Linked DNA regions of Homo sapiens. The protein of the gene in region 1 interacts with the protein of each later gene in a pairwise test. Each region holds a gene or a part of one and is shown in the gene's direction. Other genes may lie near its edges.

Region 1 (17,642 bases):
AACAAAAAATTGCATTGGTATATGTCTGCTGTTACCCACAGGAGGCCCTTGTTTGCAAAGCTAGATATTGCTGGACCCACCTATTGGTAGACATCTGAAAAATTTCTGCAAATGTGAAATAAATATTAAGGTCCAGAGAGAATAACTGTATTTTGTAATATCTGTAATATAGCTGTGTATTTTATCATATCTGCCTTTATATAATATAATGATAAATATAAATATCATTGCAGCAATAGTTATAGTAGAAAAAAATCTGGAGTCCACCTAAGTGTCTATTAATAATGAGATAGTTAAATAAATTATGGTGTCTACTCAGCCATTAACAGTTGATGTTTGGATTCAGGTGCAGTGGTGCCTGCCTGTAGTACTGGCTACTCAGGAGGCTGAGGTGGGAGGATCACTTGAACCCAAGAATTTAAGGTCAACTTAGGTAATGTAGCAAGAACACCCTCTCAAAAAGGAGTCGATGCTTATAAAGTTATATAATAATATAGAAAATGCCTACAATATAATGGAATTATGTGGGAAAATCAATATACTCATTTAAAGGTACCATATGATATGGTTTGGCTCTGTGTCCCCACCCAAATTTCATGTTGAATTGTAATTACCAGTGGGAGGTGGGAGGTGATTGAATCATAGGGGTGAATTTCCCCCTTGACTTTCTTGCGATAGAGTTCTCACAAGATCTGGTTGTTTGAAAGTATGTAGCACCCCACCCCTTCTCTCTCTCTCTCCTGCTGGCCATATGAAGATGTGCTTACTTCCTTTTCACCTTCTACCATGATTGTAAGTTTCCTGAGGCTTCCCCAGAAACAGAAGCCTGTACAGACCACAGAACCATGAGCTGATTAAACCTCTTTTCTTTACACATTACCCAGTCTCAGGTATGTCTTTACAGCAGTTTAAGAATGGACTAATACACCATATGGTTGCTATGTAAACAGCCATGTTTTACAACAGTCTTAAAGTAAATGCAATATGTTAAGTAAAATAAGCCTGATATAGAAAGACAAATATCTCATTCTCTCACTCATATATAGGAGCTAAAAAAAAAATTGAACTCATGGAGATAGAAAGCAGAATGATGATTACCAGACACTGGGAAGGGTAGTAGGGAGAGAGGATAAAGAGGAGTTGGTTAATGGGCACAAAAATACAGTTAGATTAAAAAAAAAAAAATAAGATCTAGTGCTCAGTAACCCAATAGGGCAACTATAGTTTACAATAGCTTATTGTATATTTCAAAATAACTAAAAAGTAGAATTAGAATATTCCTAACACAAAGAAATGTTAAATGCTTTAGGTGATGGATATCCCAATTACCCTGTTTGATCATTACATATTGACACACTGGTACCAAATATCACATGTACCCCATAAATATTTACAACTATTATGTATCCATAAAAATTAAAAATAAAAAAATTTAAAAATAAAAGTACAAAATGCTATCATTGGTGGTTTTACAGTAGTGAAGTTATAGATGACTTTTTCTTCTATTTTGTTTTCCAAAAAGTGCTGATATTACCTTTAAAATAATAAAAAATTTAAATGTTTCATATTTATTTCAACATTTCTTTCTGAGATTTTATACACAGACACACATACCCAGATACACACACACACGCACATGCACACACCCACACACGCACGCACACACACACCTCCTTTTTATTATTCATCATCCTCACATTGGGTCAGTTTCTACAAAATGGGCATGAATTTTGGTGGGACCAGAAATGTTAAGAACAGTACTAGTGATAATTTGAGCAGAGGCAGAAGAATGCTGAATGCTTTCAGCACATAGTGATCACAGAATATCTTTGAGGTAAAAGAACCAAGAAGAGAAAAGTGACCCTCATGGGCAGATGAAGCCACCCAGGGCTGCAAGACCTCATCTTCCCCTCACTGAATAGACAGGTGTGCAGGCATGTGGGAAAGAGAGGGGGCATGAGTATGTGTGGACTCCACCCACACCGCTGTAACAGTCAATGTCTAGGCTCAACGTGTTTCTCTATTTCGGAATAATTCCATCATGCGTTGTATTGGCTGTGACACAATTAAAGGAATAACAAGGAGCAAAGCACCAGGACAAGTTAGTCTCTCTTTTCCATTTGCTGTCTGAGAGTGGCTGAGCTCCGTGCCAATAAACTGAAGCTTCCTCATTATTGTGTGATAGTAAACAAGAAGCCATCAGGATTTCACTTCAAAATGCACCAATTCAATTTTGAGGGAAAGAAATTTGCTAGTGTTAGAGCCTAGGGCTACACATGATCGCCATGAGGCTACAGTTTCTCCTCGGTGTGCCATCTCTCTCTCTTTCTGGTAGTGCAAAATGAATTTTAGTTGGCATTTCAGCATGGCTCACAGCTTCGTCTTCTTGATTGAATGCCAAGCATGAACTAAAATATATCAGATGTTTTGTCTGCCTAGTGCCACGTTATGTGGGTGGAAGTCTGTGCAGTTCTACTGGAGGAACAAAACAATAGGATTAGCAGCAAGCGGGAAGCTTCAAGTAAATGATTAAACATTGGAAGGGAAAGAAAAAATGAATATTACCAGGAAGTAGGGGCTGAGGTCCTGTATGTATGAGCCTGCAGAGGTGTGCGGTGCCCTGGCATGTGTTCCCTGGAATAAAAAGGAATGATTGGCAAGTGAAAGCAGTGCACATATATTCAGGAATAATTGTGCTGATTTGAAAAGAGCAACAGTATAAAACCAAGACAAAGCAAATGAAATCCAATTTATGCCAAAGAGTAAGAAAGTTTATAATACTCAATAAACCCTCAAATCACCTAAGAAAGAAATGGGCAGAGAATTGTTGCCATTAATGAGATGGGAGCAATTCACGATGAGAACGTGACCATTTGCAGCATGCACTCCTCACATCTTGCAAGCCTTGGGGCTTCTGAACACTCACTCCTCCTATTTACTTTCTGAAACTTAATTGAGGAAAAGGAGGAAACTGTATCCTTGATATGAGTTGTACTTGCTGCTCCCTGGGTTGGCTTTAGCTAGTAGAATTCCTGGGTTCCTTTGTGTGTGAGGTTTTGCCTTTGATTTGACTGGATGATAGATTATCCTCGTCTCTAAAGGAAACAAGTTAGAGAGGTAACTGTGTCATAGTATGTACTTTAACTTCTGAAAACAATGTCAATTTTTCTTTCTCATCACTTTCTTCAGTTGGTCCTGCCTTGTTGTTGGACTCATTATAAAAAAGCCAGGTTTTCCATGCCCAGACACATTAACTATCAGGGATGTGTCCTTCTCTGAGACAAGTCTTGATTTTACTGCTTCCTGCTGAGCCTGACTGCTGGCATTGGTCCTAATCAACTGGAAAATAAATGGAGCTTCCCAGGTCTTGAGTCAACACTGAGCCCCTGTTTTCCTGATGCTGCCAGCTGCCAGCCAGCCCATTGCCAAGAAACCATGCCAGAGCTCATGTTCCCTTATTTTCTCTCTACTTCCTTTTCCCTATCTGCTCTCCACCTCTGCTGTAATGCCTCCGGGCATTTTCTTAGTTCACTCTGTTTTCAAATCTTTCTTTATTACTCAGACGTCTGGGAACATTCTTGCTGTGTTTCATTGCTGTGTATTTTTTTCCATAAAATACTTCTTAACTAGATGGTGTCACCTTGAACAAATGAAAGGGAATATATTTTAGGTTTTCTTTTGTATCCACCCTGACCCTCCAACCCTTCAGTTCCCCAACCCCAGAAGGGCCCAGGACAATGCGAGATACTCATCAATGAATGACTAAATGATTAAATTTCCTGAAGGATAATTCAGGTTTTTTTTTTCCCCTCCAGAAGTTCTCTTGATTTATTCTCTTACTCTTTATTATCTTATTCATCAATTATTTCCTTTCTCAACTCTTATCTTAAACTTATCCCTTCCTTTGGGATCCTTGTTCTCAATCTAGAAACATGTTTATGTCTCTCATCTGAAACAAATGAATAAAGACAAAACAAAACAAGCACAACCTTTCCCTTGACTCTGTCTCCCATTGGTTAATTCAACATTTGTTTCCTGTGCCTACTATGCGCCACTGTTCTGGGGGCTGCATGGAGGCAGAACAGTTGCTTCTCTCATGGATCTAGGGAGAGGATTCAGATAAAAAATATATATATATATATATCCACAGGAAAAGCTCCAGCTACAGCTTTGTTATTCAGGCCTAGGCTATTTGGAGTCTTGGTTAGAAGGCCTTCCACTGGCCCTTCCAGCAGGCTGATTTAGCTTTGGTGACTGGGTGTGGGCTGGATATTAGGCCTCCTGACCTCCTGTCTCCCATAAATCTGCACAAGGGCCCTCAGCAGCCCCAGTCTCCTCTTTCCTCCCAAGCCTGCTTAGAAGACTAGCCTGTAATTGCACTCCCTATTCTTTAACCAGCAGCAACCTGGTCCCAGTGCCTACCACATGACCTCCATGCTAGGGCCCATGGGGTTTGGTTCCTAATTACATGTCCTTGGGCCTTAGACATTATTACCCATTTCTCCACTGGGTTTCACCTTTTCTTGTCCACCTCTATGTCCCTAGTTGCTCTTTCTGACATCAGCCCTCTTCTCTTCTCACTTTATGTTTCCAAGAAGCAGTCTCACCCATCTGCCAGCTTTAATCACACCACCTCACTGATGAACCCCAAGTTGTCTTCAGATCTCCATTTCCCAATTCCCAAGGCCTAGCTTCATGGGCGTATGACTGGTGCAGTGGCACAGGACACCATGCTTAGAAGGTTAAGCATTAAATCCTCCCTGGGGATTTAATGCTCTGTGGTCGCCATCTTGGAATTCTTAAACTTCTTTGAAATTTGAATTGGTATTCTGTAAGTCTATCAGTCTGCTCAGGCCACCATAACCATGTACCACAGACTGGGTGGCTTAACCAATAGAAATGTATTTTCTTGCAATTCTGGAAATGAAGGCCAAAAGCAAAGTGCCAGCAGGGTAGGCTTCCTCTGAGGGCTGTCAGGAAAGGCTCTGTTCCAGGCCTCTCTCCCTGCCTTGCAGATAGCCACCCCCATGCTGCCTCTTCATATCGGAGTCCTTCTGTATCCATATGCCCCATGGTGTCTCTCTGTGTGTACTCTTCTTATAACAACAGTCAGATTGGGGTAGGGCCCACCCATATGATCTCATTGAACCTAATCACCTTTTTCAAGGCCCGATCGCCAAATACAGTCACATTCTGAGGTACCAAGGCTTAGGACATATGAATTTTGGGGGACACCATTCAGCCCATCGCAGCAATTGAAGTCAGATGAGGCAATGAAGCACGCGCTTAGGGCTTAGAGTCGTGGCTCTCTGTGGCCCTGCTTTCTGCCACCTTCCCAGGACACATTCTCAGGTGCCTCCCTGCCTCTTGGCCTTCTGGCCACCCAGCAACCCCTTCCTTCCACACTTAGAAGGCACATGGGCACAGGTGCTGGGAGGACCAGGGTCAAGCCATCCTAGCCCCGGGATGTCAGTGCCACTGCATGTTTGGAGGTGATTTGGCAGGGGCAAGCCTTGCACCCACCCCAATCCAGGTATCCAGCATATCCTGGTTGATGTTGCAATTCCTTGGGATTTCCTGAAGTCCATGGACCTATGGAAGGCTGTGGGAAAGGAAAGTGACTTCCCCCACTTCCTAGCCCTGGGTCATTCAGCCTTTTTGAGAATTTGACTAAAGTTAGACAACCTCTCTCTACCCTGGAAAGTTGACATACATAGACAGCCATGATTTTTATATATATTAAGCGGGTGATGAACTTCATAAAAGCTACTCTGTGCACCTCTTGTGATTTGGCCCTGCTTACCTTTCCAGCCTCATGTCAACTCTGCTTTCACCATGCTGCAGCCCTCTTGAATCAGCAAAGCCATTCTCTGAATGCATTGTATCCTTCCACGCGTGTTTTTGCAAGCGCTCTTTCCTCTGTCTACCATATGCTTTCCTTCATTAGCATTGTAAAAAACTTCAAAATTAAAATTACATTCTGTCTTCTTAGAGAATCCATGCTGTCACCTCCTACTTCCTATAACCTAAGTTAAACCAAGTGCTCCTCTAGGACATCCATGAGTCTAAAAGGTTTATAATACTAAGTTTTTATTATTTCCTTACCTTTGTCCTTTCTACAGGATTGTGAGCATTTTGAGGACAAGGACTGTGTTTTAATCATTGCTATTTTCCTGGTGTCTAGGACAGAGCTGAGCACAGTCAATGTTTGCAAATATCTGTTGAAAGATCAAATGAATGCATTCCTGAATGAACGACTGAAAGAGAAGTATGAGCTTGTGGTGAGCTCATTTTGGAGCCAAACGGTGCTGGGTTTAAATCCTGGCTCTCTTGAAGACTAGTATTGTGACCTAAGGGAGATTACTCTAAAGCCTCTGTTTTCTAATCTTGAAATAAGGCAAATGGAATTTACCTCAAGACAAACCATTGTCAACTTATATTGATGAACAACAGCTATAGCTACATATAACTTAGTCCTGTCACTAAATTTCTGTGAGTTATCTTGGAATGAAAAGACAAAATTAAAAGACAATGAAGCTGTATTCTTGCAGATTAATTTATTAAGAACAACAGTAAAAATATACTCATTGAATGTCTACTGGGTAGAAGACATTATGCTAGGACCTGTGGAGAAATTAAATATAAATTAATATTTGGCCTATGGAGGAGTTAAGGTATACAGTATAGGCTAAATTTTAAAATAAAGTAGGAAATGTCAGGTGCCATAAGAGAGGTATCAGATTTTAGATTAAGAGTTCGTTTGTAGCTGAGACAATGAGGAAGGCTTTTTGGGACAAGTGGTGTTTGAAAAGACCTTTCCTACAAAGGAAAGGTCAAAAGATTTTTGCTGACAGTGGAGGAAGGAAGACAGGAATGAATGCAACCATGAGGAGGTGGAGATATCTAGGAGAGAAATGTGGGCTTGGCCATCCTATTGATGTCATTGTTTCACCAGATGCTGCAGTTTCAGCTTCTGAAACCAAGGGTTAGTGACCTGCCTTTTTCACAAAGTACAATGTGCCCTGGTTTTCTGTCTGGAGCCATTGATGCTCTGCCCAGAACAAGGCCACCTGATGCCGACAGCTAAGGCAGAAATTGGCCTGTTCACACCGTAGCCCCTCAGAAGCAGCAGTTTTGTCACTCTTTTTCACAATGCCCTGAAGACACTTGGCAGAGGCTCTACTGCAGGGGTGAGGAATCACATCCCTGTGAATAGGAATGAGCAACTGGAACTGGTGTGGACACTTGGGGAATGATTAATAAATCTTATCACAGATTGTCAAATTATGTTATTTAGAATCAAACTGCTTGTGGATGAGGCAGAAGATACATACACACACTATAAAGATGGTTTTCTCTAATGACCAGTGATGATGAGCTTTTTTCCATATGTTTGTTGGCTGCATAAATGTCTTCTTTTGAGAAGTATCTGTTCATATCCTTTGCCCACTTTTTGATGGGGTTGTTTTCTTCTTGTAAATTTGTTTAAGTTGCTTGTACATTCTGGATATTAGACCTTTGTCAGATGGATAGATTGCAAAAATTTTCTCCCATTCTGTAGGTTGCCTGTTCACTCCAAATGCCCATCAATGATAGAATGGATAAAGAAAATGTGGCACACATACACCATAGAATACTATGCAGCCATAAAAAAGGATGAGTTTGTGTCCTTTGCAGGGACATGGATGAAGCTGGAAACCACCATTCTCAGCAAACTAACACAGGAACAGAAAACCAAATGAGCATGTTCTCACTCATAAGTGGGAGTTGAACAGTGAGAACACATGGACACAGGGAGGGGAACATCATACACCGGGGCCTGTCGGGGGTGGGCGGCAAGGAGAGGAAGAGCATTAGGACAAATACCTAATGCAAGCGGGGCTTAAAACCTAGATGACAAGTTGATAAATGCAGCAAACCACGCTGGCACATGTATACCTATGTAACAAATCTGTACATTCTGCACATGTATCCCAGAACTTAAAATTAAAAAAAAGAAGAAGAAGAAAAATGGTGTTCAAAATATTTCATTTTACAAGTGGTAATGAAACTGAGCTTTTAAAAAAAAATCAGTGATGAGATGTCATTTCCAGGAATCCTCTTTTGGCACCACCAGCTTGAGTTCATCACACTGCCACCAGCCTGCATGGGTGCTGCATTTCCCCTGCTGCTGTATAATGGTGGTTAAACTATGGTTCTGGGGCACCAGGCTTCCTGACCTTGAAGGCAAGCTCCTCTATTGACTAGCATATGACCTTGGGCAGTTCCTTTAACCTTCCTAAGTTACAGTTTCTCATCAGTAAAATGGAAATGGTGGCAATACCTGTCTAATATGGCATATGGAGAGTAGTAAAAGAAATGACTAGTGCAGTAAAGAACATCTCAGTGCCTGCCACACAGCAAGTGCTTTCTCTCCAGATACCAGCGTGACTTCTTTCTGTCTCATCTCCTTTAGATCTTTACTCCACTGTGAAGCCATCTTTGACCATCCCATTTAAAAATGCACCCCCTACCTCCAAACATTATCCCATTTCCTCCCTTCTTTTTTGTCCACCGCACTTCATCACTATCTCACATACTATGTATTTTAGTTATTTGTTATGTTTATGCCTGTCTCTTTAGTAGAATGCAAGCACCAAGCACCTGTATTCCCAGATCAATGCCTGGCATGCAATAAGGACTCAAGGGAGGAAGAGATGAGCCAGCCCTGCTATGCTGAAACTACTCCCGGCCCAGTGCTAGCCCTTTGGGACCCCGTTTGAACGTCTGACTGCCCTTTGACACCTGGACCAGTGGGCAGGAAGAGAAACTAAAATCGAGGTAGTAATTTAAGCAGCACATTATGGGGGGGCTCTGGCCTTACTGAACTTGAACTCAATGCTGCCGATTTTTCATAAGCCTTGATTCATGATACCCCACTCCCTCTTGCTCAGCTAATGAGCTCCTCCTGTTACCCAAAGTTGACCCGAGGGACCCACTGCAGAGCCCGGGATGGCAAAGAATTCTCTGACTCAGGCTCTGACCCGGACTCGGAGGGGCAAAGTGAGCAGGAAAGGGATCTGCAAAGCTCACCTCCTCTTGGCCAAGGCGGCCTCGCGCTGGGGAGGCGGCTCTCGCGCTGGGGAGGCGGCTCCCGCGCTGCAGCCCTGCTCCGGCGCCCCGCGCCGCCTCCGCTGCGGGTCGGGAGCGCGCGTCTCCGCCGCACCTCGGATCTAGGAGCTACTCGCCCGGCCCTGGGCGGTGGGAGGCGGCGGCGGCGGCGGCGCTCGCGCACCTCGGAGGAGCCAGGAGCCGGAACCAGGGCCGAGCCCGCGGGCCGGGGCTAGCCAGCCGGTAACCACGGGCGGGACAGGGCGCCCAGGGCGGAGCAAAGCCCGGGCGCTGGGTGCGGGGCGCGTGCAGCTTTGGTCAAGGCAGGGCTTGCTTGGGTTTGGGGGCAGTCTTTAGTTTAGAGGGGCTAGAGAATGGGGTGGGAGGAGGAGAATTGGGGTGTGAGGACGCCCACGGGAAGAGTGTGGACCCCGTGGAGAGCACCAAGTTTAAAACCTTCCCGGCAGCCCGCTGATGTGCGTGTGGACGCCGCTGGGCGTCCGAAAAGCCTGGAAGCGGCGGCGCTCGGGGCTTGGGTGGGCTTCCTCCCCTCCGCTGGGCCCCAGCGGCCGAGGCACACCCTTTCCCGCTGGTGAGAAAACTTTCCTTGCTGCGGCCCTCCTGCCGCCTTGGTGCCCTGCAACTGAGAGAGCCCCCCTGGGCTGGGGAAATGTGCTGGCTCCTGGCCCCGGGCGCGCCTCCATGCACTGGGCAGGGTTCTCAGATGATGCCTGGCTTGACAGTTGCTCATTCATTTTGTTTGGACTGGGGAGCCTGCTCGCAGGTCGTGTTACTGATTAGAGGGAAATAGGGGTTTTACACTTTCCCCGCCGCCCCACCCCGCAACCCGCCCCCGCTCCCCCCGCCCGCCCCGCGCCCCGTGCCCCGTGCCTTTCCCATCCTTTCTGTGTAATTAATTGAGGAAGGCAAAGAGTAGTCTCTGCAGAAACCTGTTTGGAGGCGTTGTGGTTTCCACAGCATGTTAGATGGCACAGAATCTCAGCCACTACTCTGCATTTAGTTTGACAACAGTGAAACACTCTGGTGTTTTGAAGGCAAAGGAAGCTTGAGGGAATGTGTCCAGGGAGACGAGAGAAGGGAACTCTTATGCATAAATTAATTCTTACGAAAACCCCAAAAGTAAACAGTAGTATTTTCAGTTTGCAGGTAGAGAAAATTAGATTGCGATATTAAATACGTTTTCCAAGGTGACTGCCCCAGTTAAGTAATAGTGGGGAGTAGGGGTCTGGAAGCTAGGACTGTGAGTCTAGTTTCCTTTAGGTACATTGCATGGGGTACACAGACAAGAACAGGTGCAGGAGAGTGACGAGGGCCTGCAAGGATAAGGTCAGGAAAGCCAGAGGCCACTGTGAGCTGGGGTACCCACAAGGAGTTTCGTTCTTATGAGGAAGATCATCCAGTGTTTATGGAAGAATAGATAATATTAACAGGTGATAGGAAAAGGAAGAGTTGCTTCCAGTCTGTATCTTTCTTTTCAAAGTGAGGCCAGCCTAAACCCTTTAAAGAGGGTCTCGAAGCCCGAAACTGGACTGGATTGTTCAAAACCCAAATGGCAGACGTCCTAGAGTAGTGAAAGCGGTTACAGTCATCTTTGTGCAGGTATGAGAGATGAGAATGGACCCAGGAGACTTTTTAAAAGAGGGAAACATTGAATCCTGGCAACATTCTAGAACAAATTCTTTAAGATAGCTCAAAACTACCTAGGGAAGCATTTACAAATACTTACGCCAAACCAACTCCCTTCCCTTTTCTAGCAATCTACTGGGATATAGATCAGGGTATGCTGTATCCATTGTCTTCAAATGTGGGCTGTGACTCATTAGGCTAATGATCAGTTTAGTGAGTTGCAAATAGCAGTTTTTAAAACATGAAAGCCAAGAGAAAGAAAGATAAGATATCAGAGTGCATTGCAGGAGCAAGGGAAAGTACTGTTTTGTGAAGCGCGCGCTGGTGATGCATGTGTCCTGTTCTGTGTTGCTGATCCTGCTGCCTCTGCGTGAGTGTTCATACCCATCGCTAGCTGCCCCCTTTCAGCCTTCTGAGCTAGCCCCATTCTGGTCACAGTGGGGGTCATCTTCTTTTACCTTGCAGATTATGTCATCAACATATTCTGGAAAGCTGTTCGCTTCCTCCTCCCCATTTCTGTTGGCCCCCAGATGCTGAGGTATTTTGCCAATCAGAATTCATCTCTGAATTATTTATCTGTGACCTTTTTTGATAGTCACAGTTCATAGATAACTTTTATCAAACATATTAAATTAGTTCAAATTGTATAAAGAGAATATCACATCTGTCCTTTTTAGCTTTCAAGGGAAATGTTTTCATTACTTGGAGTACAAAAAATATTGGAAGAACAATATTCTTATGATGTTTGTGTAATATATTTAAGGAACTATTATTATACCAAGCTATGATATTTGGAAGATTACCAGATAATGCCTCATTGTGTCATTTTCTGTCTAGTCTTTTTTTTTTTTTAAATTTTTCTCATTTTGGCTTTTTTTCCTAAATGAAATATCAAGGTAGATATATGAGAACCTCTCCATAACTCTTGAACCCACTGGTTACTTCAAGAGTATGAGGGTTCATCATGCAAAGGAATATGAAGAAATGTTTTAATAAACAAAATGAAAAATAATATGAGGGTTGAGCAAGGAGGCCTTGTTGAATAGATTTACTTCCTTCATCCCAAAGCTAGTGATGGTGTATCTGAAATTGGTGGGTTCTTGGTCTCACTGACTTCAAGAATGAAGCCACGGACCCTTGCGGTGAGTGTTAACAGTTCTTAAAGATGGTGTGTTCTGAGTTTGCTCCTTCTGATGTTCGGACGTGTTTGGAGTTTCTTCCTTCTGGTGGGTTTGTGGTCTCGCTGGCTTCAGGAGTGAAGCTGCAGACCTTCACGGTGAGTGTTACAGCTCATAAAGGCAGTGCAGACCCAAAGAGTGAGCAGCAGCAAGATTTATTGCAAAGAGGGAAAGACCAAAGCTTCCACAGTGTGGAAGGGGACCTGAGCGCCTTACCACTGCTGGCTCCAGTAGCCTGCTTTTATTCCTTTATCTGACCCCACCCACATCCTGCTGATTGGTCTACTTTACAGAGAACTGATTGGTCTGTTTCACAGAGAGCTGATTGGTCCGTTTTGACAGGGTGCTGATTAGTGCATTTACAATCCCTGAGCTAGACACAGAGTGCTGATTGGTGTATTTACAATCCTCCAGCTAGACAAAAAAGTTCTCCAAGTCCCCACTAGATTAACTAGACACAGAGCACTGATTGGTGCATTTACAAACTTTGAGCTAGACACAGGGTGCTGATTGGTGCATTTACAAACCTTGAGCTAGACACAGAGGGCTGATTGGTGCATCCAAGAACCCCGAGCTAGACAAAGAGTGCTGATTGGTGTATTTACAATCCTCCAGCTAGACATAAAAGTTCTCTAAGTCCCCACTAGATTAGCTAGACACAGAGCACTGATTGTTGCGTTTACAAACCTTGAGCTAGACACAGAGTGTTGATTGGTGTGATTACAAACCTTGAGCTAGACACAGAGTGCTGACTGGTGTGTTTACAATCCTTTAGCTAGACATAAAAGTTCTCCAAGTCCCCACCAGATTAGCTAGATACAGAGTGCTGATTGGTGCATCCACGAACCCCGAGCTAGACACAGAGTGCTGATTGGTGCATATACAATCCTCCAACTAGACATAAAAGTTCTCCAAGTCCCCACCTGATTCAGGAGCCCAGCTGGCTTTGCCTAGTGGATCCCACGCCAGGGCCATGGGCGGAGCTGCCCACCAGTCCCATGCCACAAGCCTGCACTCCTCAGCCCTTGGGCGGTTGATGGGACCAGGCGCCATGGAGCAGGGGGCGGCGCCCGTTGGGGAGGCTCGGGCAGTGCGGGAGCCCACCACGGGGTGGGGGGCTGGGCTCTGGCATGGCGGGCTGCAGGTCCTGAGCTCTGCCCCACAGGGAGGCGGCTGAGGCCCGGTGAGAATTTGAGTGCGGCGCAGGCAGGCTGGCAGTGCTGGGGGACCTGGCGCCCCCTCTGCAGCTGCTGGCCTGGGTGCTAAGCCCCTCACTGCCCAGGGCTGGTGGGGCCCACTGAGTCTGCGCCCACCTAGAACTCACGCTGGCCAGCCCGGGTTCCTGCCCCTCTCTCTCCCTCCACACCTCCCCGCAAGCAGAGGGAGCCAGCTCCAGCCTCGGCCAGCCCAGAGAGGGGCTCCCACAGTGCAGCGGTGTGCTGAAGGACTCCTCAAGCATGGCCGGAGCAGACACTGCTGAGGAGGTGCTGAGAGTGAGCGAGGGCTGCTAGCATGTTGTCACCTCTCAGTGGGGCCATTTGAGGGTGAGTTGAGCTGTCCATGTGCTTCTTGCATTTGGGGCTCACACAGGGGCCTAGGTGGCTGGATCACTCACCTTCCCAGAGTTTGTTGGGCAAAGGATGTCTGAAGATGATCTGGGAGCCAGGTGGGGCCACATGGGAGGAAGGGCTGGCCTAAGGGCGAGGGCCCCTGGCAGCAGAAGTAGGAATGAGCAGCCAGCTGAAGGAAGGTGAGTATTACTAACACACCCATGTGAGGTATGAAGATAGTTAATTCAGTCCTTTCCTCCTGCTTTGGTCTTGGAGTGATGTGAAACTAGCTAGCAGTTGAGTGGATGGTGGAGAAATAGAAAAGAAGTTTACCTTCCCCCAACCCCAGCAGGAGACCAGCATGCAGCAGGACATTGCAGAAATAGGGCAGATTTGTGTTATAATGGGTCAGAGTTTCTTTTGTTTCCAAAGATTAGACATTTTAATTCTTTTAGGTTTTTATATTTCTTATTTATTTATTTATTCATTTGAGACAAAGTCTCACTCTGTCTGTTGCCCAGGCTGGAGTGCAGTGGCATGATCACAGCTCACTGCAGCCTCAACCTCTTGGGCTTAAGTGATCCTCCCATCTCAGTCTCTCAAGTAGCTGGGACTACAGGCACAGAACACCATGCCCAGCTAATTAAAAAAACTTTTTTTGTAGAGACGTGGTTTTGCTATGTTGCCCAGGCTGGTCTTGCATTCCTGGGCTCAAGTGATCCTCCTGCCTCCACATCCCAAAGTGCTAGGATTACAATTGTGAGCCACTGTGACTGGCCTCTTTTGGGACTTTGAAGTTGTTGCATGAGCAGAAACATCATGGGATCTACTCAAGTATTTGTTTGAGGGCAGGGAAGATGAATCCCTTGAGTGTATTTTGAGGCGCAATAGAAAACCAAAATACAGTTGACATTTGAGCAGGCCCCACAAGTTGTGCTAGCTCAGAGTAGGTAACATATGCTTGGGTTAAAATTAAGTAGAGTAGCAATCTGTGTTTATTGTTACATTTACTTTTGACAAAGGAAGACTTAGAGGCAGAAGCAGTTAGAAAAGGAAAGAAAATGTTTACTTCCCCAGAGTGCAAGGGAGTCAGGCTTTATAAGACTGGCTCATCAAATAAAATCACAATAAATACTTGAAAGAAAATATTCCACCAAATTACCAAAGTTCTCCATTTACATTAGTCTGTTGTTCATGACTAAAAACAACTTTCTTACACAATTATCTATTCCTAAAAGTCGTGACTTGTTTTCAGACATCAGCATAGCAAACAATCAAGGGAAAAAATTATTTCTTTAAGGGAATGAGATGTGTTTGAAGTTTTATTTTGGAGACCAACTTTCAGGCAGGATGATCATGTTATTTTTGCTTCATGTCAGGGTACAAAGTGATTTTTTTGCTTGACTGGAGTATGAGAAGTGCTTAGTCCTATTGGAGAGGTGGAAACTGTGCATTTTCCTTGCAATCATGATTCTGCAGTCCCTTATAGTATTGTTGAGATATGAAGTAAAAAAGCAGAAGTTGAGACTAGCTTTATGAGATGCTAAAATTATATATGTTAAAATCTGAGTTTAATTGTTGCTCGTGTTTCTGTTATCAAGACCTGTGTAATTTTTGCCTCACTAGAGAACGTTAGTAAAATTTCATAACCCTTCAAGTGAAAATAGTTTGTAAGCTTCAAATAATTCTCCTGCAAGGTGCATTTGTTTTCCTCTTGCATGTTCTTGGTAATAGCAAAAATAACAATCACTGGAAGGCAGAGCAGGCTGAGGGAGGGGCTTCTTAAGGATTAGTTTTGAAGTTGCCTGGTTTAACAAGAGAGAAAAATTAGGAGCTGAGTGAGAGAATGTGGTTGTAAACGTTTTCTGTCTTTCTACAAACCTTTGTATAGATTATTTCAGGAAATATAATTCTATCTTCTGTGGGGAAAAAAAGAAACGAGAGAGAAAGAAACAAATTTAAGATCAACTATCTAATATAAAACCTACACCATATTCCTACCAGTGTGATATGATTTGGCTGTGTCCCCGCCTAAATCTCATCTTGAACTGAATTCCCATAATCCCCATGTGTCGTGGGAGGGACCCACTGGGAGGTAATTGAATCAGGGGGTTGGTTGCCTTCATGAGTTTTCATGAGACTGATGGTTTCATAAGAGGCTTTCCCTCTCTTCACTCTGACTTCTCCTTGCTGCCGCTATGTAAAGAAGGATGTGTTTGCTTCCCCTTCTGCCATGATTGTAAGTTTCCTGAGGCCTCCCTAGCCCTGCGGAGCTGTGAGTCAATTAAACCTCTTTCCTTTGTAAATTACCCAGTCTCAGGTATGTCTTTATTGGCAGCATGAGAATGGACTAACACCATAAATTGGTACTGAGGTAGTGGGGAGTTACTATTAAAGATACCAGAAAATGTGGAAGCGACTTTGGAACTGGGTAATGGGCAGAGGTTGGAACAGTTTGGAAGGCTCAGAAGAAGACAGGAAAATGTGGGCAAGTTTGGAATTTCCTGGAGATGTAGAGGGCTCAGAAGAAGACAGGAAAATGTGGGAAAGTTTGGAACTTCCTAGAGACTTGCTGAATGGCTTTGACCAAATACTGATAGTGATATGGACAATGAAGTCCAGGCTGAGGTGGTCTCAGATAGAGATGAGGAATTTGTTGGTAACTGGAGCAAAGGTGACTCTTGCTATGGTTTAGTAAAGAGACTGGTGACATTTTACCCTGCCCTAGAGATCTGTGGATCATCAGAGAGATGATTTAGGGTGTCTGGTAGAAGAAATTCCTAAGCAGCAAAGTGTTCAAGAGGTGACAGAGCATAAAAGTTTTGGAAAATTTGCAACCTGACAATGTGGTAGAAAAGAAAAACTCATTTTCTGGGAGAAATTCAAGCCAGCTGCAGAAATTTGCATAAGTAACAAGGAGCTAAATGTTGATTGCCAAGACAAAGGGGAAAATGTCTCCAGGGCATGTCGGAGACCTTTGTAGCAGCTCCTCCCACCCATGGCCTGGAGGCCTAGGAAGAAAAAATGGTTTTGTGGGCTGGGTTCAGGCCCCCCCTGCTGCGTGCAGTCTAGAGACTTGGTGCCCTGCATCCTAGTCATTGCAGCCATGGCTAAAAGGGGCCAAGGCATACAAAGGGGCCAAGGTATAGCTCAGGCTGTAGTTTCAAAGGGTTTAAGCCCCAAGCCTTGGCAGCTTCCATTTGGTGTTGAGCCTATGGGTAAACAGAGGTCAAGAATTGAGGTTTGGGAACCTCCACCTAGATTACAGAGGATATATAGAAATGCCTGGATGTCCAGCCAGAAGTGTGCTGCAGGGACAGAGCCCTCATGGAGAACCTCTGTTAGGGCAACGCAGAAAGGGAATGTGGAGTCAGAGCCCTCACACACAGTCTTCAGTGGGGCACTGCCTAGTGGAGTTCTGAGAAGAGGGCCACTGTCCTCCAGTCGCCAGAATGGTGGATCCACTGATAGCTTGCCCCGTGCACCTGGAAAAGCCACAGACACTCAATGCCAGCTGTGAAGGCGCCAGGAGGGGGCTGTACCCTACAAAGCCACAGGGGTGAAGCTGCCCAAGGCTATGGGAGCCCACCTCTTGCATAAGCATGACCTGAATGTGAGATATAGAGCCAAAGGAGATTATTTCAGAGCTTTAAGATTTAATTACTGCTTTATTGGATTTCAGACTTGCATGGGGCCTGTAGCCCCTTTGTTTTGGCCAATTTCTCCCATTTGGAACAGTTGTATTTACCCAATGCCTGTACCCCCATTGTATCTAGGAAGTAACTAACTTGTTTTTTATTTTACAGACTGATAGGCAGGAGTTGCCTTGTCTCAGGTGAGACTTTGGACTTGGACTTTTGAGTTAATGCTGGAATGAGTTAAGACTTTGGGGAACTGTTGAGAAGGCATGATTGTGTTTTGAAATGTGAGGATATGAGATTTGGGAGGGGCCAAGAGTGTAATGATATGGTTAGGTTTTGTGTCCCCACCCGTCTCATCTTGAACTGTAGTGCTCATAATCCCCATGTGTTGTGGGAGGGACCTGGTGGGAGGTAATTGAATCATGGGGGCAGTTATCCCCATGCTGTTCTCCTGATAGTGAGTGAGTTCTCATGAGAGCTGATGGTTTTATAAGGGGCTTTCCCCCTTTTGCTCACACTTCTTGCTGCCGCCATGT
Region 2 (9,199 bases), on another chromosome or scaffold:
CCATACGCGGGCGCTGAAGTGCCAAACCTTCGTGCGTGTTCTCTAGTAATTAGGTGCATTGTTTTGAAGGAATAAAGAATGGCTACTCCATAGGCAGGACAGCCTCTAGTAACCAGGTTTGTTTTGTGTATTTTCATTTGGTTAAAAATTAAGTTTAGGTTGGGCGCAGTGGCTCAGGCCTGTAAGCCTGACAGTTTGGGAAGCCGAGGCTGCAGGATCATTTGAGGCCAGCCTGGGCAACATAGCAAGACCCCCTCTATAAAAAAAAAACTGTAAACATCAGCCAGGCGGTGGCGCACCCCTGTGGGCCAAGCTATTCTGGAGGCTGAGGCTGGCGGATCACTTGAGCCCAGGAGGTCGAGGTTGCAGTGAGCCGTGATGGCGCCACTGCACTCCAGCCTGGGCGACAGAGCGAGACCCCCTTCTACAAAAAAAAAATTAAAAATTACCCCGGGGAAGGCCAGGCGCAGTAGCTCACGCCTGTAATCCCAGCACTTTGGGAGGCCAAAGCGGGCGGATCACCTGAGGTCGAGGGTTCAAGACCAGCCTGACCAACATGGAGAAACCCCGTCTCTACTAAAAATACAAAATTAGCCTGGCGTGATGGTGCATGCCTGTAATCCCAGCTACTTGAGAGTCTGAGGCAGGAGAATTGCTCGAACCCGGTGGTGGTGGTGGGGGGGGTGGGGTGCGGAGGTTGCAGTTGGCCAAGATCGCACCATTGCACTGCAGCCTGGGCAACAAGAGCGAAATTCTGTCTCAAAAAAAAAAAAAATTACCTCAGGGAGCCTGTGGTCCCAGCTACGTGGGAGGCTGAGGCTGGCGGATCACTGGAGCCCAGGAGGTTGAGACTGCAGTGAGCTGTGATCAGGCCACTGCACTCCAGCCTGGGCAACAGAGCAAAACCCTGTCTCTAAAAAAACTAAGTGTATACCAAAACAAGATTTCTTAACACATCTTGTCCATTACATCAGGGAAAACACTTGTTCTCTTTCACTTCCATGTTTAACTTCTGCCTGACACAGCTATTCGTAGCCACATTGTGATTATAGTAAGTCACTGACAAAAAATGTTGTCCTGAAAGCCAAGGCTACGTTCGGTCAGAATGAGCTCCTGCAGGTCTGGAATTGTTAGAACAGCGTATCTGGTTATAGCCGCCCTTCATATTAATTATTAAAATGTTACATCACTTAAGGCTTTTATACAGTTTTTCCCCCAAGCCCCATAACTTCAATCTATAACAGTGAGCAACTAGCAGACACATTGGAAGTGTTTAAGAAGCCAGCCTTTAAGAAAAGGAACAGAAGGGACAAAAACCCCAATTAATGCGAAATCATCACAGATAATGACAGGTATTTAGGTGGCCTGGTTTAGCTAAGGCCTGGAAAAGAACAGATCGGGTTTAAAGAGTGGCCTGCCGGGAACGCGATGCGGCGTGGTCTGCCGTGCACTTGGCTTCCTGCTTCCATCCTGTGGTGCCTCTTCCAGGAGCCCAGTTCTGAGTCTCTGATGCCGATGTCCTGTATTTACTGGCTTAAAACTCTTGCCTGTGTGAGATTCCACAAACTCTGGCACAGAAGGCCCCAGATCTGCCCAAGAAGCTGTGGGATCAGCCACAAAATCTCACCAACGCCAGGTTTCTGTCCTGCCCTCCCTGGCGCTGAAGGGGAAATAGAACAGAGGCTGTGTTCAGGTTGCTGTCCTGCCTGCCGCCCAGCGGTGCAGCTTGAGCCTCCTTTTATGAGAGGTTTCCACCCAATTCTAGATGTGTATTGAGGTATCTACACATGGAGGGACGTGCACATATCACACGTGCAACTGGCCTGAGCCCTTTTCAGACAATTAGTCCGCTCCAGGTCAGCGTGGATCCAGGGTGAGTCAGAGGCGTCTTCAGATGCAAAACCTCAGAATCAAAAAGGAGGAAAGAGACTCCACTCACTCCTCGGGCTTCCTGTCATCTCTCAGGTGGGGGTGGGAGAAGGCCCAAGAGGTTGCATGATAAAAAGACTGGACAGCTGCATTGCTGGTTTGGAAAATCCTTATTTTTGGAGGGATATTTGGGGATAAAATTTCAGAGGAAAGCAAATGTCTCATCAATCATGAAAAAAGATTTGTTACAACCTAAGTCAGAAAAGGTTTTCATCTAGTCATATATGTGTGGCAAATACGGAGAAGCCACAGACGGTGAGCCACAGACAATGAGAGCAGCTGTTGGGGTGGGCTCCAGGGTGCTGCTTTCCCTGAGGGCCAGCTGGGTCTGGCCCAGGTTCACTTCCCACCCCGGTGCCCCCGGTACTCGCTGTCTCCAGCCTCAGGTTCTGAAAGGCAGAGACTCCTAGCCTCATTGAAGGATGGTTAGAGAGGCACGGGAGCTATCTAGTGGCAGGCCCACGGTATATGTTTGCTGCTTTCTACAAATACGAGATCAAAGGAAAATAAAGCAGGGGTGGTTCCTGTCAGTGTGGAGCGAGACCCGGGAAAGCATCCTGGTGGCTGTCAGGCCTTGCTCACGGCCCCTTTCTCTTTCAGGGAGAGGATCCTCCACAGTGGTATCCTGCTGCGTGCCCCTCCAGGACAGCACCCAGAGGCCCGAATTGCTGCTGCACAGAGAGCACTCGGCCTCACCCCACGTTTTCCCTAAGTTCTGTCTAGTAATTCCACTTTGGAGAGGGGGGTGTTCCTTGACAGATTTAGAGAGTTGATGTAACTTCCTCGGATCAGTTCTGCTGGCTCCATCCCCTACCTGCTCAGCCCTGCACAAAGTGGCTAAGCACGCCACACTGCCGGCTCCCAAGGCGATGGCCACCTGCCTCTGTCTCGGCCGCTAGTGGCAGGAAGATGGAAATCCCTCACTTTGTCCCTAGATTCATTTTATTTTATTTTTGTTTGTTTATGTTTTTTTAAGGACAGAGCCTTCCTCTCACCCAGGCTGGAGTGTGGCAATCACAGCTCACTGCAGCCTCAGCCTCCTGAAGCTCTGGCATCAGGCGGGAGCCACTGTGCCTGGCCCCATAGACTCATGTTAGCATAAACAAATAGGAAATGTACACAGCTCAGGAAATGGCTACTAGATACTTAAGTCCCCCAAACAGAAATATATTTCCTCTGAAGAAACTGAAAAAAGTGGCCGGGCGCAGTGGCTCATGCCTGTAATCCCAACACTCTGGGAGGCTGAGGTGGACAGATCACTTGACACCAGGAGTTTCAGACCAGCCTGGCCAACATGGTGAAACCCTGTCCCTACTAAAAATACAAAAAATTAGCTGGGCATGGTTTTGCACGCCTGTAATCCCAGCTACTCAGGAGGCTGAGGCAGAAGAATCACTTGAACCCAGGAGGCGGAGGTTGCAGTGAGCCAAGATTGTGCCACTGCACAGTGTCCAGTCTGGGCAACAGAGCAAGACTCTATCTCAAAAAAAAAAAGAAAATGACAAAGTTATTTTTTCTCTCTTAACTCATAACTGGGGCCAAAGGCAGGGTGACATCACTGGGGATGCCAGTGTGTGGAGGCTGTCCCCTGACCAGTCCTGTCCACAGTCAGGAGGGCAGGGGCTGCAGTGCACAGACCGCATTGTTGTGGCATGGAGGGGGGTCCCACAAAGGCCTTGTCAGCTCATGGGACCACATTGGCAGCCAGCATAGTGACAGAAGCCTCAGATAGGCAGTGAGCCATTGCCAAGACTCCATGGTCCCTTGGTGTCTGTGGCCACCAAACAGATGACAGAACCAGCCCCTCTTGTTCAGCCACCTGGGAGGCTGCTCCCAAGCCTGTTGAGCTTGAGGATCCTTAACCACTCACCAGCTCTCTTCAGTTCCCCTTCAAATGCTGTTTTATCTCAGCGGAACGTACTACGCCCTGTATTTCCTCGCCACGCTCCTGATGATCACGTATAAAAGTAAGTCAGGGACGGGCACAGTGGCTCACGCCTGTAATCCCAACATTTTGGGAGGCTGAGGTGGGCGGATCACTTGAGGTCAGGAGTTTGAGACCAGCCAGGCCAACATGGGGAAACCCCATCTCTACTAAAAACACAAAAAGTAGCCGGGCGTGGTGGTGGGCGCCTGTAGTCCCAGCTACTCGGGAGACTGAGGTGGGAGGATTGCTTGAACCCGGGAGGTGGAGGTTCCAGTGAGCCAAGATTGCGCCACTGAACTCCATCCTGGGTGACAGAGCAAGACCCTGTCTCAAAAAAAAAAAAAAGGAAAAGGCAAGCTGAGGTGGCTGCTGCTGCTGTGCCAGGTTACTTATGTTCCGTCCGCGCCTCTGCTCTTCAGGTCAGGTGTTCAGCTATCCTCACCGCTACCTGGTCCTCGATCTTGCTCTGCTGTTTCTGATGGGGATTCTAGAAGCAGTTCGGTTATACCTGGGTGAGTGGACTGTTAACACCGTGAAGAACCTGTCCTAAGAGTTGCTATCTGTTTCCACAGCCTTTCAAGAGTAATTATTTTATAGTGTGGTTCTCAGAGACATTTTTTATCCAAACTGCTTACCCAGTTGCTTTGCAGGCTCACCTTACAGTGTCATTAAGTATTAATCAAGAAGTTTTGTCCCAGAGACAAATAACACTGGGGGCATCGTTGGGAGAGACTCTGTGTTTGGAAGCATGTCTTGTAGAAGCCACTGGGTAATGGCACTGAGATCAGAAAAGCCCAGCCCACCACCACATCTGGAGCTCCGGAATATTCACCAGCACCCCTTTCCTTCCCCTTGCCCTTAGCTGTCTGAGGAGAGAGCCCTGGAGAGTTCTGCCAGGTCCCAAAAGGCAGCAGAGTCTGGAGGGGTGGGAGCCCCCAGCCTCCCCACTCCAGCTCTAGGGATCCCCAAGTCTGCAACCCCTTCCAGTGACCTACTTTTTTTGAGACGAGGTCTCACTCTGTTGCCCAGGCTGGAGTGCAGTGGTGCAGTCACAGCTCACTGCAGCCTTGACCTCCTGGGCTTGAGCGATCCTCCTGCCTCAGCCCTCCCCTCCTCCCAAGTAGCTGGGATTACAGGCACCTGCCACCACGCCCAGCTAATTTTGTTTTGTTTTGTTTTGTTTTTTTTTGGTAGAGACGAGACAAGGTTTCTTTTTTTTTTTTTTTTTTTTTTGAGACAGAGTCTCGCTCTGTCGCCCAGGCTGGAGTGCAGTGGCGTGAACTTGGCTCACTGCAAGCTCCGCCTCCCGGGTTCACGCCAGTCTCCTGTCTCAGCCTCCCGAGTAACTGGGACTACAGGTGCCCGCCACCACGCCCGGCTCATTTTTGTATTTTTAGTAGAGATGGGGTTTCACCATGTTAGCCAGGATGGTTTCCATCTCCTGACCTCCTGATCCGCCCACCTCGGCCTCCCAAAGTGCTGGGATTACAGGCGTGAGCCACCGCGCCCGGCCGGAGACAGGGTTTCGCTATGTTACCCTGGTTGGTCTTGAACTCTTGGGCTCAAGCAATCTGCCCACCTTGGCCTCCCAAAGTGCCTGGCCTCACTCCCCTTTTTTTAACCACACAATTTGTTCAAGGGTATGTTCTTGTACAAGATTCAAGGGGTGCAGAAGTAAAACATGGAAATTCGCCCTCCCCAGAGCTCACCTCTGTGGCCAGCGGGGTGCAGACTTCCAGCCCTCTGCGTGCTCATGGTCGTAACATGTGCACCTAAACACACGTGTTTGTGAAACATTGTCCTGCCGTGGGGAACGCAATGGGCACTTCCAGGGCGCTGTGCCCCTGCCAGGCTGGAATCTTGGGCCCCTCTTGTTCACATACAGATACACCCCTGATGCCTGATGTCCAGTGAGGAACCAAGGCTGCGGGGAAGGGTGGCCCCCACCCTTCCTCTTGTTATCAGGCCTCAGACACACTAGGAGGATGGAGGCGAGTTCTCTCAGCTGCCCATCCCACTGAGGGGTGCCCGGCCGTCAGTGTCTTGTCTGCACTTACGTCCCAGAACCTCTAGAGCTTGCCCCCCAGGGCGGGCACTGCTGGGAGGGTGCGAGCACCGCTGCGGCACAGAGGCCCGGTTCTTGGCTGATCTTCTGGGGCCTGGGCCTGCCCTGAGGTGGTGGGGACAGGGTGTGGCCTGGCCCTGCTGGGGGCTGCTAGGCCAACGGGACCCTCCCCAAGCGCGCCGCACACTGCAGGGTCTCCAGGCACCTGGGCTCAGCTAGTGACTGACCCATTTGTTTGCTAAATACGCAGTTTTGTTTTTAATACATACTCGTGAAATTTTCCAGAACTGGCCTTGGACCAGAGAAAAATACTTTGGGAATTTTTCAAAAAAATCCCTTCAGTTCCACTTGGAATTAGGAAAACGTGGCAGATGCACTTGAATCATTTTAGAAACCAAATTCACCCCCGCCCACACAGCCGACCCAGAAGACCCAGAGACAGATCAAACCATGCTGTTGCAGGGGCACCTCCCCCAGGAGGGGCTCACGCCTGTGTTGCCCATGCTCTCTGGCTCTCCTGAGTTCTGGGTGGCCATGGAGGCTGTTTCCCTGGAATTCCCCAGGCCCCGGAGGAACGTAGGGCAAGGAGCTGCTCTGGTCCCAGCAGCCCTCCAGGCACCTGTGGGCGGTGGGCTCCAGGGAGCGCCTCGCACCACCTTCCCTCCCCTTTGCTCTGTTCTCCAGGCACCAGGGGCAACCTGACAGAGGCTGAGAGGCCGCTGGCCGCCAGCCTGGCCCTCACGGCTGGCACCGCCCTCCTCTCTGCCCACTTCCTGCTTTGGCAGGCCCTAGTGTTGTGGGCGGACTGGGCCCTCAGCGCCACGCTCCTGGCCCTTCACGGCCTGGAGGCCGTCCTGCAGGTGGTTGCCATCGCGGCCTTCACCAGGTAGCTACGGACACCCGGGATACCCCACACTGGGGCCCTCCTCCTGGGCCTGACCAGTCCCCCAGCTGTCACCTCCCCATTCCTGGACAGGAAGGGCACTTTTCCTAGTGACTGGCCATAGATGGTTTTGGATGGTTCCATCTGTTCTGGCAGGAGTGGGAGCAGGAGCCAGGGCAGAACAAACTGCTGGAGGCCCTGGTGTTGGGAACAGCTGCGGGGAGGGTAGGGACCAGACAGAACTGCCTTCAAGATGAGTCCCAGGAGCGCACACTCAGCCCTGTCAGTGGGGTCTGGCTTTAGCAGCCAGGCCTCCACAGACCCCCATGGGCCCCCAGGGCCGAGAGGGAGGACAGAGCCCTTCAGAACAGAGGCCTCATCTCACTGCATCCCCCATCACCCCCTAGTTCCCCAATGGTCCTAATTTGTGTTCTGAGATCCCAGTTTACTCCGTGGCCAGGCCCCACCTGTGTTTCCAAGTCGGGCTGGAGACGCAGGATGGGGTAGGCCTTGTGCTCTGAGCAACCCCAGCTCTGCCTCACAGGCAGGCAGGCCCGGTGCAAGAGTGGACTCTGGGTTCCTAAAGCAATAAATGCAAACAAGCCAACAGCTCTGCTGCCTAGCAATTTCCATCTTAGCCACACTTCTCCCTTCAGGGGCTTCGGAGGAGAGGTCAGGGCTAAGGCCGGGGATGAGACTGCAGGAGAGAGAGCAGCGGAGGGCCACATTCGGAGCCTCCGTCCACTCCAGTTTTATCAGCTTTTGCCTTTTGCACGGAGTGCTAAACAAATTCTAGCTCTGTGTTTTTTTCCCATTCCCAGATTTACTATCAGTTCTCCTTAAAAAGTATCTAAGCTGTTACAGTAGCTTTCCCTTCACTTGATTCTATTGTGTGTTTTCTATGTTTGGAATAATTACACCCAAATATCTAGATATTTTCTCTTCACCGCATTTTGTAAATAAAGAGATGTGTATGCCTCCCTGAATTCTCCTAATTATGGCCACCTCCCCCACCCCATCTCCAGTTCTCCTGCCCTGCAAGAGAGCACACCCCACTTGCCAGCTGGTCAGTTCCTGGCTGGCCTCGCCCTCGGGCCCTGGCTGCCGGGCGCCTTCCGCTCGGTGGACTCCTGAGGGCAGGAGGCTGCGGGACTGTCCTGGGCCTCCACTGGGGCTCCCTCGGCTGGGGTGGCTGTGGCTGTGGCACCTGGACAGTCTTTCCTGCCTGTCTTCGTGGAAGCGGTGGGAGCACCCAGTTGTCCTGGGCCGACTTCCTTTGACCTGTCTGTGGCCCCCAGTGGCCACGGTGAGCTGCAGGACAGCCCTGAGGACCCACTTCACACACCAGCGCCTGAGCGCCTCGGGCCACCTCCCTCACCAGCGCCTGCACTCGCAGAAGACCAGCTGGGCACACCTGCCATCTGGAGGACCCAGCCCACAAACCATGCAGACCAGGGAAGGACCCCCTCCCTGAAGCTGGAGACCTGTTGCCTTCATGGTTAATGGATCCTGATACCTCCAGTCTCAGCGAGCACACAAAGGCAGTGGTCACCTGTTCCACAGGGAACGCCATGGCTCCAGGTGACCCGGAGTGGATGGGGCCCGAGAGGCCAGCCTGGACTGTCTCCTGAGGGCAGGCTCCGCACTCAAAATCGTGTTGACAGGCACCCGTTTAGGAGTGGAGAGGGACCCCACCCCCCAGCTGTCCTCTCCAGCGCCTGTTTCCCACTTGGCCACTCCCAGCTCTGCCTCCAGGAAGGGTGAGGGCACGGGTGCACCGAGGGGTTGGCGTGTGTGACCCTGAGCTCTGGGTCAGGGCAAGCTCATGCATGGAGCAGGATCACGGCAGGTTCCTGGAGATCAAACGGCAAAGGCTGTAAACCAGGAAGCCAGGTCTTGCCTGGGCTCAGGGGCAGGCACTGGGCCCGAAGGAGGAGGGCCACTTCCTGCCAGCCCTCCACCGAGCTCACCTATGGCGCCTCCCCAGGAAGTGCTCCGGCCAGCCCAGGGTAAACACGCTAGCCCTGCCCCTCTGGGACCATAGCCCGGGGACCCAGACTCTTGGCCACGCTCATTCCCACCCCTACCCAGGACCGGCAGCCGGAGCCTTGGGTCCCTGCATGGGCCTGGGGCGCCCTGTGCCCCTTCACCTCGTCCTCGTCCAGTTGACTGCTGTGGCAGCCGGTGCTACCCGCTGTGTCCACTGCACCCTGGCCCTGTTCTGAGCGGTCACAGCAGCTGGGGAGAAGGGCCATCCTGGAAGCCGGGCAGATGAGGACGGAACCAGACAGTCCCACTGTGGTGGGCAGAGGTGGGGCCTGGGCCTGACCACGGGGCAGTGCAAGGAGAGAGGCATCCTGAGAGGGCCTGAGGTGTCCCCACCTCCCCTGACACC

Evidence for each region.
Region 2: the proteins of MRAP2 (region 1) and TMEM80 interact in binary tests that used the Homo sapiens proteins (3 or more experiments, as listed by UniProt).

The regions. Positions count from the first base shown.
Region 1 is NC_000006.12:84,024,551-84,042,192, forward strand, and holds the start of MRAP2 (melanocortin-2 receptor accessory protein 2), read left to right. Parts: upstream 1-9,221; 5' UTR 9,222-9,333; intron 9,334-9,568; exon of another isoform or gene 9,569-9,682; intron 9,683-17,642. UniProt on the Homo sapiens protein: Modulator of melanocortin receptor 4 (MC4R), a receptor involved in energy homeostasis. Plays a central role in the control of energy homeostasis and body weight regulation by increasing ligand-sensitivity of MC4R and MC4R-mediated generation of cAMP.
Region 2 is NC_000011.10:696,340-705,538, forward strand, and holds the end of TMEM80 (transmembrane protein 80), read left to right. Parts: intron 1-2,529; coding exon 2,530-2,549; intron 2,550-3,802; coding exon 3,803-3,896; intron 3,897-4,275; coding exon 4,276-4,368; intron 4,369-6,605; coding exon 6,606-6,811; 3' UTR 6,812-7,335; coding exon of another isoform or gene 7,336-7,396; 3' UTR 7,397-7,460; coding exon of another isoform or gene 7,461-7,647; 3' UTR 7,648-7,790; downstream 7,791-9,199.